Linked DNA regions of Homo sapiens: all the other regions are linked to region 2. Evidence: fine-mapped expression QTL. A gene starts in region 2. Each other region holds a variant in brackets. All regions are shown on one strand. Distances are between the middles of the regions. Region 1 has its middle 21 kb from the start of SCIMP. Region 2 holds the start of ZNF594-DT (ZNF594 divergent transcript). Region 3 holds the start of SCIMP (SLP adaptor and CSK interacting membrane protein).

Region 1 (2,758 bases), 63 kb before region 2:
GAGTGCAGCAACTTGATCATAGTTCACTGCAGCCTCCAACTCCTGGGCTCAAGTGATCCTCCCACCTTAGCCTCCTGAGCAGCTGGGACTACAGGTGCATGCCACCACACTCAGCTAATTAAAAAAAAAATAGAGACAAGGTCTCAAAATCCTAGGCTCAAGCAATCCTCCTGCCTTGGCCTCCCAAAGTGCCAAAACTATTCTTGATCCCAGCACAATGTGTGACCCAGAGTAGGTCCTTAATAAATATTTGTTCAGGCCGGGAGCGGTGGCTCACACCTGTAATCCCAGCACTTTGGGAGGCCGAGGTGGGCAGATCACGTGAGGTCAAGAGTTCGAGACCAACCTGGTCAACATGGTGAAACCCCATCTCTACTAAAAATGCAAAAATTAGCTAGGCGTGGTGGCAGGCACCTGTAATCCCAGCTACTCAGAAGGCTGAGGCAGGAGAATCATTTGATCCCAGGAGGCGGGGGCTGCAGTGAGCTGAGATCACGCCATTGCACTCCAGCCTGGGTAACAGGGTGAGACTTTGTCTCAATCAATCAATCAATCAATCAATATTTGTTCGGTGAGTTAGTGAGTGAATGAAGGCATTCAAGATTAGGAACTTGCCAGTATGCCCAGCCTTGCCTCACCTCATCCCGGCCCCCAATGCCATTTCACCCTAAGTGCCCAATATCCAGACTGCTTACTGCTCCCTCAGAGTCTTCCCAGCCCATCTGTCCGACCCTGGCACACCTCTCTCAGCTTATTCCTACAAACCCTTTGGGACTTGAGTGTGAATGGAATCTTTTCTAACAAACCTTCCCTGACCCAACCTCTGCCAGATCTGGGCTGAAGACCCCTTTGGAGCCCTTTTCATATTGTTCGTAATTTTTAGTTTTATTTTTTGGGGCCCACTCCTTGAAGGCAGGATGTAGGTCTGCCACCAGAGTTTCTTTTTTTTTTTTTTTGAGACAGAGTCTGGCTCTGTCCCCCAGGCTGGGGTGCAGTGGCACAATCTCAGCTCACTGCAACCTCCACCTCCCCGGTTCAAGCGATTCCCCTGCCTCAGCCTCCTGAGTAGCTGGGATTACAGGCATGCGCCACCACACCCAGCTAATTTTTGTATTTTCAGTAGAGACGGGGTTTCACCATGTTGGTCAGTCTGGAGCCACCAGGGTTTCAATGAATATTTGCTGGATGAATAAATAAATGGAAGAAAGAATGAAACAGTTGGCTTGGGCATGGTATTCAGGCACAAGTTTACTATTATGATGTCAATCAAAGGCTCGCAGATTCCTCATTAGGTAGAATAAAGTTTACAGGAACCCATCCCTTACTGATGTTAGTCATTTTTCAAGGCTCTAAACTTTGCCTCTGGCCTTGGTTTTGGCACCCATCTTTCTCTGGACCAAGCTGTCTCCTACCACACACCCCTCTTCTCCCTTCCCCTTCTCTCTGTCATCAGATTGCAAGCTTGTACCCTGAGGGCTGTCTCAGGCAGCAAGGATCTGGATCTACAGGCTTGGTGAAGGCACA[A/G]TTCCTAGTCTCTTGCCTTGAGCACACACAGGAAGTCAGCCACCCAGCCACAGTTATATTTAGATTCCTGTCACCTGATGGGGTCATCTGTTAATCAGGGCATAGTGGTAGGTGCAGCATTTTGGGAGTAAACTGAGGTAGGACCAAGGTAGAGAGGAAGTGAGCAGAAAAGTCAGGTACTGACTCCAGGCTCTTTGGCAGGATGAATATTCATGGCTTACATTACACCTAGAGAGATAGAAGGCAGACCAAAGGAGGAACTTGACTTGAGAGAGAAAACAGTTCTTGGCTTGGGCAGGGTAACGGTGGTGCCCCTGAGAGCAGCAGGAAGAGCTGGCCCCTTGGGGCCTCTTGCAGTCCTGAAGGCCAGTTGGGTGCAGGAGCAGGAGCACGGGCCCCTTTGCTGAGTGAGCGGGGCCGAGTGAGTGGTTTTTTTCCATAGGCAGGAATACCCAGCTGCGGTCAGCAGAAAGAGCTGTGGTCACAGGACCCTGTACACAGGGTAGAAACCAGAAAGAAGCAGACATAGCAGGAATTTTTTTTCAAGCTTCCAAGAGCCTTCTCTGCCCTCGATTTGGTTTATCAAATGACTGCTTTGGGAGCTGGGGGACGGGCCCTAAATTGTCATGGATCCAGTTGCTTCTCCCTCCTTTTCTTTTTCTAACCTCGCCTTCATTTCCAAATGACCCCCTTTTATTTCTAGAATCCACCCCCACCACTATAGTAGGTACCTTGCAAGGAGCTCCTGCCCACACTCCTTTCTTTGGCATCCAATCCATTCCAGATCCTGCTGACAGTGTTGGCTTCCCACAACCCACTCCTTTCTGAAATGCTCGGGTGCTGGCCCATCACCGGGGGATCGTCTACACCCCTCCGTCTGGCTTCTGAGTTCTCCATGTTCTGACTGACACTCACCCTTCCCAACCCCAGGCTCACCTTTCTTTCTTTTTTTTTTTTTTGACAGCTTTATTGAGTTATGATTGACATGAAATAAACCGCACCCATGGCCAGGCGAGGTGGCTCGTGCCTGTAATCCCAGCACTTTGGGAGGCTGAGGCGAGTGGATCACAAGGTCAGGAGATCGAGGCCATCCTGGCTAACATGGTGAAACCCCGTCTCTACTGAAAATGCAAAAAATTAGCCGGGCGTGGTGGCATGCGTCTGTAAACCTAGCTACTCAGGAGGCTGAGGCAGGAGAATTGCTTGAACCCAGGGGGCAGAGGTTGCAGTGAGC
Region 2 (2,758 bases):
GTTCAACTCCCACTTATGAGTTCTAACTCATTTTTGCCTCCCAGAGGATCCCGGTGTCTTAGCTGTGGATCTCTCAATACTTGCAGGTCACAGGGCCACAGAGGCTGGGCCTCTAGGAGCAGAGGACACGGAACAGTCTATTTTTTTTTTTATTTTTTTGAGACAGTGTCTTGCTCTGTTGCCCAGGCTGGAGTGAAGTGGTTCCATCTCGGCTCACTGCAACCTCCACCTCCCGGGTTCAAGCTATTTTCCTGCCTCAGCCTCCCGAGTAGCTGGAACTACAGGCGCCTGCCATCATGCCAGTTAATTGTTTTGCATTTTTAGTAGAGACGGGGGTTTCACCATGCTGGCCAGGCTGGTCTTGAACTCCTGAGCTCAAGTGATGCGGCCTCCTAGGCCTCCCAAAGTGCTGGGATTACAGGTGTGAGCCACCGTGCCCTGCCTTAAAAACCCATTTCTAAATTCCAAAGAGTAACTTCTATTAGTGCACTCTTATTAAGAGAGGTAAAGCAAAAGGAACTATAAAAGCAACTATAATTGAAGTCTATTTGAGACATGGCTCAGTATTTCAATGAAAATGTAACACAGTCAATGAAATACTATCTCAAATGTAGTTGTGCAAATTAAGGAATAGTTGGTAGTAGCTGCATTTACAAATTCAAGAGTGAAACGTGCATAATTCGTGCAACCCAAAGTTTGGGACAGAGAGATATGAGAAGCCAAAGTGACTAGTGCACTGACAGTTTTGCTTCGGAAAGGCTTGGGGTTGGACATCTTACATCTTTACATACATATATAACCCTTACCACGATCCTACGCTACGCGAACCAACATCATCTCCATAGTAATAACTAATATGTATCTGGCCTTCGCCACATGCAAACTTCACATACATATGTCAGTGAGGTCGGTCCTATTATTTACCTCACTTTACAAATGAAGCAACGGAGGCGCGAAGAAGCTATTAATAGGTAACTTGTTCAAAGTCACATAGCCCCTAAGTGGTGGGGCAAGGATTCTGAGTGTCTGACTTTCTCACTTCGGAACTTACACTTTTAAACATTAAGCTGTCCTTGTTGGGATCTGTATCGCCTAGCCTTTGACCGGGCATTGCAAATAGAAGTCATCAATGAATGAGACCACAAATGCATGCAGGGAACAATAACAAAAGATGAAAACAGAACAGGCAGAACAGGAGTTCGAGACTAGCCTGGCCAACATGGCGAAACCCCGTCTCTACTAAAAATACAAAAATTAGCAGGGCGTGGTGGTGGGCGCCTGTAATCCCAACTACTGGGGAGGCCGAGGCAGGAGAATCGCTTGAACCTGGGAGATGGAGGCTGCAGTGAGCCGAGATCGCGCCATTGCACTCCGGCCTGGGCGAAAGAGCGAGACTCCATCTCAAAAACAAAACAAAAGGGCAGAACAAAAACGTAGTTACTTGAAGGGGTCACTCACCCCGGACCCGACCGTGCCACAGCCCCGACGCCACGCATGTCTAGGACCAGCTGAGGACGCGGCCTCTCGGCGGTAACCTTGGTAACCAGCCAGCGCGCCGCTGGCCCTCCGGAAGTCAGACTCCGCCGGGCTGAGCCGAGCTACGCCAGCGCCGACTGGCGTCGTGGAGGAGTCTGCGCAGAGGAGACACCTGATCCGGTGGGAGACGGCCAGGGGAGCGCGCGCGGATTGGCTGGAGCCGACGGGGGACGGCTGGGCGGGGCGCGGACTGGGGGACCGCAGTCCCGGGGAGCGCACCGGAAGTTCTCGCCTGGCCCAGGCGCGGGGTCCAAGATGGTGGCGCTAGGAGCCGCGACCCAGTGATAGCGGCCGTGGAGGGGCCCCCGACCGAGCGGGAGGTTGGGGGTAGCCTGGAGGTGAGACCCCGCTGCGTTCACAGAGCTGGCGGCCGCGGCGCCTGCGTCCACCGGCAAGCGAGGAGTGGAGCAGAGCTCATATGCCTATGGGGAGAGGCCTGGGGGACCGCAGGAGGATGTAGGCGCCGGGTGCGCATGACTGGGCCTTCTTGCTCTCGGTCGGCTTCTTGGTCTCGGCGTGCCCCATTCCCGGCCCTGTCCCGCTACTCTTGCCTGTTCCAGTTCCCTCCTGTGGGTACCGCTAACGGCATCTTCCCGAGGCCCAGAATCCACCGTCAGGCATAAATTGATTATTCCTCGCCCACATCTGTGCCAGGTATATTTGTATATGTAACCAAATCTGGTTTTTGCATCCCACGAGTGACCCCGCTGGGGAGGCTAGACTAAGCCACAGGAATGAACTGTATTGTTCATATATGTTCTACTACTCAGTCTAAAATATTAGGACTGTTAGAGTTCAAACAAGGGAGGGATTTAGGTGGGCTGGTCTCTTTGTAAGGGTCTACATTGCTTTTAGGAGCAGCTTCTATTGTGACCAAGCGAGTTACAGAGAAACGCCACACTTTGAGACAAATTAAAGAGTCCTTATTAGCCGGCAACCGAGAGGCAGCTAGCGCCCAAAATTTTCTCGGCCCTGAGGAAGGGGCTAGTTTTGTTTTTATACCGTGGTCTAAATAGGGGAGGGGGGATTTTAGCTGAAGCAATTTTTACAGAAGCAGAACTGGCAAAAAGTTGAAAAATTAATTGGTTACAAATGCAGTTACAAAATATAAACAGTTCCAATTGCACGGGCTTAAACTATCACAAAGAGATAAATGCAGGGGTTTTGCTTGCCATCCACCGAGCGCGTCCCCAGGAGCTGCTGGTGCAGCTTGCCTCAATAT
Region 3 (2,758 bases), 41 kb before region 2:
GAAAGGGGAAGTGGTCAGGATGGGGCTCACTGTCTCTAGCAGTGGGTGAAGGCCTGTGAGTGAGGAATGCCTCTCACCAGCTGTGCCTGAGCTGCAGCACTCCAGCCACTGCTGTCTCCTTAGCTGCTCACATATGGATACTTTCACAGTTCAGGTAAGCATCTCAGCTTTCCAAGGGACAGTTTCCTGCTCTCTTCACAGCAGACATCTGCCAGCGCTGGCATCAGGGCGTGTCCCTGGGAGCCACCGATCAGCACTGGGCCAGGGGATTGCAGCCTGGGGCCCTGGTACGACTGCTGTGTAGGGTTGGAGAAAAACTTGCATTGAAGGATCTGCTCTACTGGTAACTGGCTGAGTGACCTGAGGCATCACTTCACCTCTCTGGGCCTTTTCCTCATGTGTATGTCAGGGGCGATGAAGAAGTCTACCTCTTGGATTGAAATGAGATAATGACCGGGAGTGAGAGGTCTCAACTGTAACGAGTTACTCTCACTTTCTGGATGCCGATGGTGTGTTTTGGGACTTGTTATGTGAGAAGACTGTCATGGTGCTATGCTGGAGGTGGGGGTGGGAGCGAGGCACTGACTGTGTCAATTTATTTATTTTTATTTTATTTTGAGATGGAGTTTCGCTCTTGTCGCCCAGGCTGGAGTGCAGTGACGTGATCTCGGCTCACTGCAACCACCGCCTCCCGGGTTCAAGCGATTCTCCTGCCTCAGCCTCCTGAGTAGCTGGGATTACAGGCACCCGCCACCACACCTGGCTAATTTCTGTATTTTTAGTAGAGACGGAGTTTCACCATGTTGGCCAGGCTGCTCTCGAACTCCTGACCTCAGGTGATCCGCCCGCCTCGGCCTCCCAAAGTGCTGGGATTACCGTAGCATGAATTTAGGCTACGTCTTGGGGCTCTTGGATGAAAGACCTGGATCACCTCCAGTCTTGGTACCTTTGTCATTGCATCTCTGGCTTTCAGTAGTTCATTAGGCACCTTCCCTTCCAGAGGCCTCGAGATCAAAGTGTGTTGGGCTGGCGTGAGTTCTCGGTGTAGCCATCTGCTTTTGCCCTCTGGAAAATTATTTTGAGAAGAGATCTGGGTTTGGCTTTGCCATATCCACTCCCACTGCCTGGTGTGTCCA[C/T]TTGTCCCTGAGGTCTTGGCCATGAAGCAATGTGGAGCACAGGCTTCACTCTGCTTCAGTGGTAAATAACTACTGAGAGGCAGGCGGGGCATGGTGGCTCACGCCTCTAATCCCAGCACTTTGGGAGGCCAAGGTGGGCAGATCACAAGGTCAAGAGATCAAGACCAGCCTGGCCAACATGGTGAAACCCTGTCTCTACTACAAATACAAAAATTAGCTGGGCATGGTGGTGGGCGCCTATAGCCCCAGCTACTCGGGAAGCTGAGGCAGGAGAATCGTTTGAGCCCGGGAGGTGGAGGTTGCAGTGAGCCAAGATTATGTCACTGCACTCCAGCCTGGTGACAGAGCAAGACTCCATCTCAAAAACAAACAAACAAACTACTGAGAGGCTTAAAGCAAGGAAGGGACAGGGTCACACTGGTATTTGGCAGCCAGTGGGGAGCCCAGTGGGGGCTAGGGGCCAGCGAAAATGCAATGGTCCAGGTACAGAGATGAGGACTTGGACTACATTTGGAGGCTGATGGGCTGAAGCGGGGTGGGGATGGGGCCATGGGAGAAAGAGGAATGAGGCAAGGTTTCCGGTCTTTTCCAGAAGTGAAAGTATAGAGAAGGGAAGAAGAGAGGCTGGACTCCTTTTAATGACCCTGCCGTGCACTTCCCCATGCACACTTGGGTTTTAAGTTGCCAGTGACTATCCACATGGCCATTTCTGGTGCTGACATCAGTGAGAAGGACAAGTGGAGCGAGGCTCAGTGGCTCACGCCTGTAATCCCAGCACTTTGGGAGGCCGAGGCAGGTGGATCACTTGAGGTCAGGAGTTTGAGACCAGCCAGGCCAACATGGCAAAACCCCATCTCTACTAAAAATACACAAAAATTAGCCGGGTATGGTGGTGCGTGTCGGTAATCCCAGCTACTCAGGAGGCTGACACAGGAGAATAGCTTGAACCAGGAAGTAGAGGTTGCAGTGAGCTGAGATTGCACCAGTGGAGTCTAGCCTGGGTGACAGAGCAAGACGCCATCTCAAAAAAAAAAAAAGAAGAAGAACGAGTGGGAACAAGGCCTCACTTAGCATGAACAGCAACAGTCGGGGAATTAGAGGTGAACTGGGGCAAGAACTGCTCATGCCAACCGGCCTAAATGTTCTCTACAGCCTCTCAGACCCTCGAGATCTAGACTGAGATTAGTTCGAACCCTCATTCCAGGCCTGCCGAAGTCCAAAGCCCTCCCCAGGACTTCTGTGGACTCCCGAGGAGCCCACCTCTTTTTCCATGGTCAGCAATGGGCCTGCAGCCTCTGTGGGTAAAACTGTTTACACTGCGCTGTTTACACTGCACTGTTTGCACTGTTTATACTGTTTATACTGCACTGTTTATACTGCACTGTTTACACTGCACTGTTTATATTCCACCCCTTTCTTAGTCCCCCACACCCCTAGAACAAATCTGCTCACAAAAGAATTGGCAGATGCAGCAGACTTTACCAAAGACTCAGCGGGGGACCACCAGAGGGGCTTGTAACGCATCAGCGCAAACAACTGCACACAGAACATAACACGGCGCTGCTCTGAAAATGTCTTTGCCAGCCCATCCCTGAGCATTTTCTATCAGCTCCTCCTCTTGA

Evidence for each region. PIP is the estimated chance that this variant, and not a neighbour inherited with it, causes the effect.
Region 1: its variant is the best candidate, but not a certain one, in a credible set for the expression of ZNF594-DT in blood mononuclear cells (TOPMed, PIP 0.81).
Region 3: its variant is the best candidate, but not a certain one, in a credible set for the expression of ZNF594-DT in whole blood (GTEx, PIP 0.75).

The regions. Positions count from the first base shown.
Region 1 is chr17:5,254,186-5,256,943 of GRCh38, reverse strand. No RefSeq gene overlaps it. Among named protein-coding and RNA genes, the nearest start is that of SCIMP, 21 kb to the right of the region's middle. RefSeq lists an enhancer at 1,921-2,426. The variant A/G (reference allele first, on the strand shown) is at 1,525.
Region 2 is chr17:5,190,864-5,193,621 of GRCh38, reverse strand. ZNF594-DT (ZNF594 divergent transcript) reads right to left here and starts at 1,615. Exons shown (of 6, transcript NR_152840.1): 1 at 1,459-1,615. ZNF594 (zinc finger protein 594) reads left to right here and starts at 1,754. Exons shown (of 2, transcript NM_032530.2): 1 at 1,754-1,874. RefSeq lists a silencer at 1,620-1,819.
Region 3 is chr17:5,232,131-5,234,888 of GRCh38, reverse strand. It overlaps SCIMP (SLP adaptor and CSK interacting membrane protein), which reads left to right and starts at 29. Exons shown (of 5, transcript NM_207103.3): 1 at 29-154. The coding sequence starts at 134. The region is part of intron 5 of ZNF594-DT (ZNF594 divergent transcript); the gene reads right to left. The variant C/T (reference allele first, on the strand shown) is at 1,137.